Linked DNA regions of Homo sapiens: region 2 is linked to region 1. Evidence: fine-mapped expression QTL. Tissue or cell type: whole blood. Region 1 holds a variant in brackets; the other region holds the start of a gene. All regions are shown on one strand. Distances are from middle to middle.

Region 1 (5,153 bases):
GGGCGTGGTGGCTCATGCCTGTAATCCCAGCACTTTGGGAGGCTGAGGCGGGCAGATCACTTGAGGTCAGGAGTTTGAGACCAGCCTGGCCAACATGGTGAAACCCCTTCTCTACTAAAAAATAGAAAAGTTAGCTGGGCGTGGTGGCATGCGCCCCTAGTCCCAGCTGCTCGGGGAGGCTGAGGTGGGAGGATCACTTGAAACTGGGGGCAGAGGTTGCAGTGAGCCAAGATAGTGCCACTGCACTCCAGCCTGGGTGACACAGTGAGACCCTGTCTCAAAAAAAAAAAAAAAAGGCAAAAGCTAAAATATGGGGCTTTATGGAAAAGTATTATAAAATGGGAACAGCTGGTGTGCAGTTATTATCAGCTAGAACTTCAGAATTGCTTCAGCAACACTTAATTTTGCTCCTTATGGAGAAACCAGCCTGCTATCTACAGTCTCTCAATTACCATTACCTAGGAAAATTTCTGAGAAATGTCTTGATATGACTTTTCTGCCATGTTACTCAAAGTTTGGCAGCTATAGTTTACTTAATGGGTTTTCTGCACCATTAGGAGTTTCATGTAGGTTACCCATTTAATACATTTTTAAAAAACCATCATAATTTTAAAAATATAAAGAATAAGTTTTGATATTTAATAATAATAGATTCATACTAGTGAAAGGGAAGACATTCTTTGTAGTCTACTATCAAAGTGGCAGAGACTGGCTAGTTGTTCACCAAACCATTTCCTTTCCTCTCTTGGACACATGACCAGACTACATCTCCCAGCTTCCTTTGCAGTTAGGTGTAGCCATGAGACTGAGTGCTGGTGAGTGAAAGGTGAGGGGAAGTATGGGCTCTATCACTATCTAATGGTGCTTCTGGCTCTACAAAAATGAATGAGGGGTTTCTAGTGTGGGCTTCAAAACTAATAATTTATTAAGATATCATATTCGTAAGCGTTACCAGCTGTACAGTCCCAACATTTGGATTGGGGTAGGTGTTAATCTGCTTATCCTCTGATCCTCTTCCTATTTCCCCAAAACCTGAGGTGCCTGAGCAGAGGGCCTCTGAGACAAATGTTGATATACAAAGAGTAAGTCCTCTATATTTTTCTTACAATTTATCAAGAAGGAAATACTGGCTGGGCTTGGTGGTTTACGCTTGTAATCCCAGCAGTTTGGGAGGCCAAGGCGGGAGGATTGCTTGAGGCTAGGAGCTCGAGAACAGCCTGGGCAATATAATGAGACTCCCATCTCTATAAAACATTTTTAAAAATTAACCAGGCTTGGTGGTACGTGCCTGTAGTCCCAGCAACTCAGGAAGGCTGAGGCGGGAGGATCACTTCAACCCAGAAGTTCAAGGTTGCAGTGAGCTATGATCATGCCACTGCACTCCAGCCTGGGTGACAGAGCTAGCCCCTGTCTTGAAGAAAAATAAAAATAAAATAATTTTTAAAAATATAAAAGAAGGAGATATTGAATCTTGAGGAGCAAAAGCTTTTAGCCCGAACAACTGGAAGCTTGGAGTTTCTTTTATTAAGAATGGGGTAGACTGCAGTACAGGCAGGTTCTCTTTTATACAAACAAGGTGCCCCTCCCTAAGCCCTCCAGGTATTGCTTTGGGATCCACAGGGAAAGGAGGGTCCTGTACTCACAGATATGAAAATCTGAAGATGTTATGCATTCTTGGGCAGAATATCATATAGATGATATTGTATCTTTTTCAGGGTAACACATCTGGAGGCATACCATATTTTAATTTAGCTGCCCTTCATTGGTGATTTTAATTTAGCTGCATAGTATTCCACTGTGTGGATGCACCATAGTTGATTAACCAATGTCCTATGCTTTGACAAATATTACTGCAATAAATAACATTTTGCATATGCATTTTAATATCGTTAGAGGTGTATTGCAGTGTAAATTTCTACAAGTGGCATTGCTAGGTGGAAGGGTAAATGGATATGTGGTTTTGTTAGATATTGCCAA[A/C]TATCCCTACATAGATATTGCACAGTTTTGCATTTCCTCTAGCAATGAGAGTGCTTATTTCCCCACAGTTTAACAACAGAACATGTTGTCAGGTTTGAGTTGTTGCCACTCTGATAGCTGAGAATGGTGTCGCAGTGTAGTTTTAGTTTGCATTTCTTTTGTTATGAATGAAGCTGAGCATCTTTTTGTAAGTTTAAGAGTCATTTTTACATCTCTTTTTGCGAATTGTCTGCTCAGGACTTTTGCACATTTTTCTGTAGCATTTTTGGCCTTTTAAAAGTCAACTAAAAAAGTCCTTTGCATGGTAGGAATTTTAGCTCCTTAGCTGTAAGATTTGTTGTAAATTGCTTCTCCCAGGGCAAGCTTCTCCTCATAGGGCAAGAAGAGCTTCTTCTTGCGCTTTGTCTTTTGATTTTCTTTACATCATTTTTTGCTGTGCAAAAAATATTTTAATTTTTATGTTGTCAAATTTATTAATCTTTTCTTACATCCGCATTTTTAGTTGTAGTTAGAAGGCCTTTCACTGTACCCTAAAAATCATTTTTACTTGGCAACTACTATGTCCAAGGCATTAGATGAGATGTTAAAAGGAAAACAAAACTGAACAAAACTCAGCCCTTATGCTGAAGAAAGTATGGATCATAGCTTATTTGTCCTCAATTCAAAAACAGAATTTTTATATTCAGGATTTGCGTACAAATAGGTTGCATGTAATCTTGACCAGAACTCCAGAAATCATTTTTTCTATAGCAGAAACCAACATACATCATCAGACAAATGGGATGGGTTTAGTTCTGCAATTTGCCAGCTGTGCAAATTTGGACAAGTTGCTAAACTCTGAATCTCAATTCCAGAATCTAATAATAACACTTTTCTTGTAGGATTGTTTGGGGAATTAAAGGAAATTATGTACAAAAAATGAAAAAATGCTTACCACAGTGCCTGACACACAAGAAAAGCCCCATGAAAGAAAGTTCTATTATTTTGTCTATACAGGTCTACTTTCTTCTAATTGTCCATCTTAGTACCCCATCCACCCTGGCCACATATATGAACTCATAACCTAGGCAAAGGCAATCGGAAACTTTCCTTGGGATTTAAAACATAGGATTTAAGAGAAGGCATCCTTTTTTCTTTTGGAAGATGGAGGTGGGGAAATATGAACCCAAAAGTGGCCAGCAGCCATGGTTTCTTTCTCATAGGAAAAGCCAATCTCAAGAGAAAAGAGAATGAAATTAGCACTGATGAAAGATGGAGAAAACTTTGATGCAATTTAGCCTCTTGATTCCTGTCCTCTCTGAGATCTAGCTGCACTTCTGACCTTAATGTTGATTAACATAGGCAGATAAATCCTCCCTTGGTCAAGTTGGGTTCCGTTACTTAAATCCAAAAGGGTTCAAGTGATAGATGTTTGAAACCAGATTTTTTTTTTCAGCAAAGTGTTTAATTAATGCAGAGCTAGCGAAGCAGAAGGATTGGAGTTATTATTTAAATCAGCCTCCCCAAGAATTCAGATGGTAGCGTTTTTATGAATAATTTGGTGGGCAGAGGGCTGGGGAATGGGTGCTGCTGATTAGTTAATGATAAAATCATAGGGGTGTGGAAAATAGTCCTTGTGAGCTAAGCCTGCCTCTGGGTGGGGGCCAAAGGACTGGTTGAGTCATGAGTCCCGAGTTCGGGTGGAGTCAGCCGGTTGCTAGAATGCAAAATGAAATCAGAAATGTTTAGAAACATCTAAGTAGGTAGGTAATCCAACTATGACCCTTTGATAATGGGATGAATTCAGCTATAAAGAGGCTATATAACAAAATGCCTTATAAAGTACAAGGTATGACTTTTGTAGAAGATGATAAAAACACTTTTGAAAGTAAAAACTAGGGAGAGAACAAATACTGAAGCATTAATATCGATGTTGTTTGCGGCCTTTCATTTCCAGTCATTTCCATTTGCAAAGTATTAATTATAACCGTGATTAAGTTTGCCTTGTAGATTGCATTTGGATGAACTCTAAGGCAGATGTGCAGATTCATTATTTTATATCTCAGTTAATTTACATGTCCCTAGGAAAGCACATTAAATCATACAACTCATCTTTCATCAGAGTTGAACACTTGTATTTATTTGTTTTAAATTCGTATCTTCATGCAAAGCCATTGCCTTCCATCTCCCTAAGTGAGAACTGTATTTTATTTTTCTTTCCCAAAGAAACAAACTCAGGAATCTAATAATGAACCCAAATTGGTTTACTGGGAAAGGACAGGGAAACAAATGGAGATGCTGTCCAAGTATGCTGCCACCCAAGGAGAACCCTGCTCCCAAGAAGTCGTTTTATTTCTAAGCAAATTGTCCTGAATATATAAAGCTCACAGGCCCTCTTCCAAACCACAATTTTCTCTCAGCAGGACATCTGAAATGGAATTGTGATTGCTGCCTGTGCTATCCCTCAAGTCTCTCTCATCCGACACAGAACCCAGCCTAGTTAAGACGGTCAAAATCCCAAGTTTGGCTTCCCTATTTAATGTGTAAAATGTTTCCTTTTTTGTTTTTTGTTTGTTTGTTTGGAGATGGAGTCTCGCTCTGTCGCCCAGGCTGGAGTACAGTGGCACAATCTTGGCTAACTGCAACCTCTGCCTCCCGGGTTCAAGCGATTCTCCTTCCTCAGCCTCCCAAGTAGCTGGGATTACAGGTGCCCACAACCATGCCCAGCTAATTTTTGTATTTTTAGTAGAGATGGGGTTTCACCATATTGGCCAGGCTGGTCTTGAACTCCCGACCTTGTGATTTGCCCGCCTCAGCCTCCCTAAGTGCTGGGATTACAGGCCTGAGCCACCGTGCCTGGCAAAAATGTTTAAGTCTGATTTACATGGAGCTGGAACGTTTCCTTTGAAATTAAAAACCAAAAATCACAGATGACAGCAGAGGGCACCCTTCCCTCTCATATGCAGTTGACACTCTCACCACCTGGGGAAAAAGATTTTGTTTTTCTGGGTTTCTTGGGGTTGACAATGGACACACACTCCAGTTTGAGATGACACACCCGTTACTGGTTGATCCTGTCTCTCCCCATTCCATTTTCCTTTCCTCTCTGAGCTGACTGACCTTATCTTTGGGGAACCACAGAATAAAAGGAGTGGTTGCCGGCAGAATCCCTGAGGAATGTATTTTTTTCTGTACAG
Region 2 (5,153 bases), 580 kb after region 1:
CTCAACCCCATTTAATAACCCAGATGAACTCAGAGATGTTGCATTGGAATGACGTTCCCCTCAATGGAACCTGGAGGCGACACTATGATGCACTTACAAATAATGTCCAACTGCGTTTCAAAGACTAACTGTGGGTAATGACATCCTTCCCTGTGAAACACACCCTAATATTCTGTGAGTCTGGGGTCTTCCATAAGACTGCTTTCTCTTTCATAATCTCTGAGATTCTTAGATTATTATAATGAAAGGATGAGAAGCAGTGATTGAAAGAGGAGAATGAACTCCATCAACTGCCCTCACTCTTATCTGCAGTCTCAGCTTTTCAGAGAAAGCATACTTAGAACTTCTATTTTGCTTTCTAAAATCAAACCAAGGTGGCTGGTAAATACATTTCAGCTCTTCCTGGAGCATTTCTAGCCACCTAAAAAAACGGACTGTGCTTTTTAACAAAAGGACCAAAAAACTGTTGATGTTCTAAGGCACTGATTCTTAACTTTGGCTGCACAGTAGAGATACTTAGGAACTCTAAAAGCTACAAATGCCAAGCCCTGTATCCAGAGATTTTGGTTTCATTGATCTGGGGTTCAGTCTGGGCAGCAGGAGTTTTGAAAGCTCCCCCTCTGATTTGAGTCCATTGCGAAGGCTAACAACCTCTGCCTTTAGGCAGGAGGTCAGCCAGGTCCTTGACCTCCATTGGCCACCAGTGGGAGCAAAGTGGCCATTTTTTGCAAGTTTAATTTGATTTTATTATTACTCTATTTACCAATCTGTTGTTGTTGTTGTTGTTGTTGTTTTGAAACAGAGTCTTACTCCGTTGCCCAGGCTGGAGTACAATGGTGCGATCTTTGCTCACTGCAACATCCACCTCATGGGCTCAAGCGATTCTCCTGCCTCAGCCTCCTGAGTAGCTGGGACTACAGGTGCGTACCACCACACCTGGCTAATTTTTGTATTTTTAGTAGAGACGAGGTTTTGCCGTGTTGACCGGGCTGGTCTCTACCTACTGACCTCAAGTGATCCGCCCACGTCGGCTTCCCAAAGTGCTGGGATTATAGGCGTGAGCCACCGGGCCCCGGCTATTTACCACATTCTTACAGTACAATTATACTGGCTATCACAGCAGCTTACAAATATCAAGTAGGAATTGGATAATTTCAACTGCAATCCCATATGTGTCATTGGCCCAGTTGACCGAATTCCATATGGGCCACCTACAGTCATTTTGTAAAGCATTGTAAAATTTTAGTGCAGAATTAATTTACCTTCAAGATCCATAATGAACATTAGGTGGGTATAAAAATTAACTTCAGGCCGGGCGCGGTGGCTCATGCCTGTAATCCCAGCACTTTGGGAGGCTGAGACAGGCGGATCACCTGAGGTCAGGAGTTCGAGACCAGCCTGGCCAACATGGAGAAACCCCGTCTCTACTAAAAATACAAAAATTAGCCAGGCGTGGTGGCACACACCTGTAGTCCCAGCTACTTGGGAGGTTGAGGCAGGAGAATCGCTTGAACCCGGGAGGCGGAGGTTGCAGTGAGCTGAGATCACGCCACTGCACTCCAACCTGGGTGGCAGACCCATTAACTTCAAAAGACTTAAGTGTACTTTAAATTGTTGTCAAAATTAACTCCAAGGACTTTGGGGAAAAATATATAGTACATTTTGGATGAGACTCTCTTGAAATCAGACTTTTCAATTGCTCTTAAACCTCATTGAATTTTCTAGAAAATGTATCATTTAAAAAGAAGTGTAAAGTTCATTTTTAGTCTGACAGTTCTTGACAATAACAAAAACGGACCACCTGCTATGTCTTGACAGTGTAAAATAATAATTACAGAAATTGTAGCATGTTATTAGGTTGGTGGAAAAGTAATCACAGTTTTTTGTACCAACCTAATTATTTAAAACTCTGACCAAGAAAAGTAGCAATTAATGTCGAACTTTAAGCCTCCAACAGTAGGTTAAGCTCAGGCTTCACTAGGATCTAGCAATTGACCTATGTATGTGAAGGAAGAGAGTTTGTCCTTTTCTACAGAAATAGCAAAGGAAGAATATTTCCCTCACCTTCTCTTCCAACCCTGTTGTTCTGGAAGAGGATATTGTCTCTGGTAGGGCCAGTAAGTAATATTTCCAGTTCAATTTCTAACTTGAAATTTTCTTATTTTCCTGTCCAAATTAGTAAGATCATCACTGCATTTGATTTTCAAAATTTACTCTCTAATTCCTTTATACTAACGTGTGCACAAATTAAAGATCATAGCAAGCCGCTTTACCTGCATTTACAGTTGTTTCGATCTTTAATTTTTATCCTTATTTGCCCATTTATTACTTTCTAGGCTCACACCATTTGCCACCAACCCAGATTTCTGGGTCAGAAACCCCATATTCTGTTGGAAAGCTTTGCTAAAGAAATAGAAGTGGCTTACCATGTTTCTGTTGTTCTAATTTTTCATTCCGTAACTTGCAGCAGCGCAGAATGGTACCCTCTATGCAGGAGGTGGCCGAGAAGAGAAACTGGCTAACTTCCTGAAATGGCTCTATTTACCATCAGCAGAACGTAGCGTGTGTTTTACAGAAGTTTACATGAAAAGAAGGGAACTTGTGATTTCTTAGCTGTTGCCAAATCATTAATTGACTGTGCTTTAAAACTTTGAAACTGAAGTTATGGGAAAAAGTCATTTATGAAATGATTTAAATACAACCCAAATCAGACACACACGACGTATTTTTGTTAGTTTTTGTGTATTTGTGTGTACAGGGGAGAAAAAGGGAACATTATTCCATTCACTAAGAAAACTTCAGTGTATTCTTTTTTAAAAAAGTTACCATAAATTTGTACTGAACTTCGGATTTCTCAAACTCGTCTTCCTTGTGTAATTCACAGATGTAGGCGAATAACATGAACATTGCTTCATCTTTGTTCCACAAGTTTCTGAGACAGCACCGGTAGGTATGGGTCTCCCTCCCACTGGGCTGTGGCCGCAAAGCGAGCATCTTTCTCCTGGGCGCCCCATGCCTCCTCCAGCACCTGGCATGTAGTATAAGCTCAATGAGTGTTCATTGTATGAACGAGTGAGTCAATGGCTGAGCATTCGTGAGGCTGGAAAATTTAATCTTCCCGATTTAGTCTGATAAATGGATTCCATTTTATGCTCGGAGAGCAAGGGCCTCAAAAGGTGTAACCAAGAGCAGAGGTCAGCAAACTGCAGCCTTTGAACGAAATCCGGCCCAGAAGTGAAAACATTTTTAGATGAACATTGGCAATGGATTTGCTGATACAGAACACTAACTTTAAATTCCAACCAAGCAGAATGTTAGCACCTCCAAAAATGATTCCATTCTTCTCATTATTAAACCTATACTACAAAAAAACTGCCTTCGATTATTATTATTACATTTTGAGTTTCATCAATTACATAATTGTGGAAATTTTTATTTTACTATATAAGTAGCTACATAATATGCCAAATTTGCTTCTTGGCCTGTAAAACCTAAGATATTTGCCATCTGGCCCTTTACAGAAAAAGTTTGCTGACCCCTGGCCACAAGAATAAAGTTTAGAACGGGATGTGATATGTTTCATCTTGCCTTACACCCCAGGAGTGGGAGAAAACCAAATTGGCAGCAGGGTGGGCAGAGATGACATCCATATATAAATGGACTGTGGAACACCTTGTTATGAAGGAAGGCCTGTCAGCAGTCAAAGAATGGCTTGGGTGGGTATACCTAGATGGACCTCTAAAGATCACACCCTAAGGGAATTCAAGACCTGGTGCATGGTTTGAGAGGTGATTCCTGTGACATCAGAGAGTGCAGCCTGGGCCTTCATGGGCAAACCAAAAACATTTGTGATTGTAAACCCAAAGGCCTCGGCTGGCCGCATCCAAGTCTCTTGGTTTCCCTCCAAACATTTGCTTGGAAATAAAGTAAAGAAAGTAAGTAAGAATGGATCGAGTGCAGTGGCTCACACCTGTAATTCCAGCACTTTGTAGAGGCCGAGGCAGGAGGATCACTTGTGCTCAGGGGTTTGAGACCAACCCGGGCAACATGGCAAAACCTTGTCTCTAAAAAAATACAAAAATTAGCCAGGCATGGTGGTGTGCACCTGTAGTCCCAGTTACTCGGGTGGCTGAGGTGGGAGGATCGCTTGAGCCCAGGAGGTGGAGATTGCAGTGAGCCATGATAGTGCCACTGCACTCTAGCCTGGGTGACAGAATGAGACTTTGTCTAAAAAAACAAACAAACAAACAAACAAAAAACAGCGAAGTAAAAATGACTTCCAGCCGTTGACTGAGCAAGGATCCTTGGAACTGGAGAGTTTGTCAGCTTTCTAGAAAAGCGAGACTCACATACCCTGGCTTCTAGGCCACCAAGTGTCAGCCAATTGTAGACCAGTCAATTGGCCTTGTAAAGCATGCTTGTATACGTATATATATATATGTGTGTGTGTGTGTGTGTGTGTGTGTGTGTGTATCATCATGTATATATGATATATATATATTTTTTATGTACATATGCATGTTTATATGTATATATACACACATACAGTCTAGTATCTATGTCAAGCAAACTCATAAAAATGAGTTACTTACTTATACCAAATGAGCCTTCAGTTTTCTCCACACAACCAGTACCATAAAAGATGAAAATGAAAATGGAATTGACACCAGGGCAGGAAGGTTACTGAGAGGAAGAAGCTCCATCTGCTTGTAAAGTAGCCAGATGATTGGCTTCTGCCCAAGCCCAGAAACTGGTCCTTGGTGGCCAGGTCTGCTCTCCCCACCCTGCACTGTGAGGCCAAAAGCTCCTGGGCATCTCCTAGACCAATCTTTCCTTACTCTTCCCCTTGCCATCCATGCTGACACAGATCTTGATTCCAAAATGGAGAAGACCTGTCATGAACCGCTTCTGCCAGGCAAGCCTGCCAGACAACGTGCACTTCCCAGACACACAAATCACCAGCAGACAAGCCTCTCTGAGCCTTAGTTTTCTCATCTGTCAAATTGGGATAAGAATAGTAGTATCTTTCTCAGATGTTGGCTTTGAGGATTAAATTGTTCATATCGTGGAACTCTTAGAAAAGTAGCTGGCACAAAGTGAGCGTTCAACTAGCAGAGCTGGAATTATTATTACTACGCTTGTTGTTACAGACT

The links. PIP is the estimated chance that this variant, and not a neighbour inherited with it, causes the effect.
Region 2: it holds the start of TLR8, and the variant in region 1 is fine-mapped to the expression of TLR8 in whole blood (TOPMed, PIP above 0.99).

Annotation. Positions count from the first base shown.
Region 1 is chrX:13,488,115-13,493,267 of GRCh38, reverse strand. No RefSeq gene overlaps it. Among named protein-coding and RNA genes, the nearest start is that of EGFL6, 79 kb to the left of the region's middle. The variant A/C (reference allele first, on the strand shown) is at 1,978.
Region 2 is chrX:12,903,983-12,909,135 of GRCh38, reverse strand. TLR8 (toll like receptor 8) reads right to left here and starts at 2,516. Exons shown (of 2, transcript NM_138636.5): 1 at 2,427-2,516. The coding sequence starts at 2,429. TLR8-AS1 (TLR8 antisense RNA 1) reads left to right here. Exons shown (of 5, transcript NR_030727.1): 3 at 803-920; 4 at 2,885-2,946; 5 at 5,151-5,153.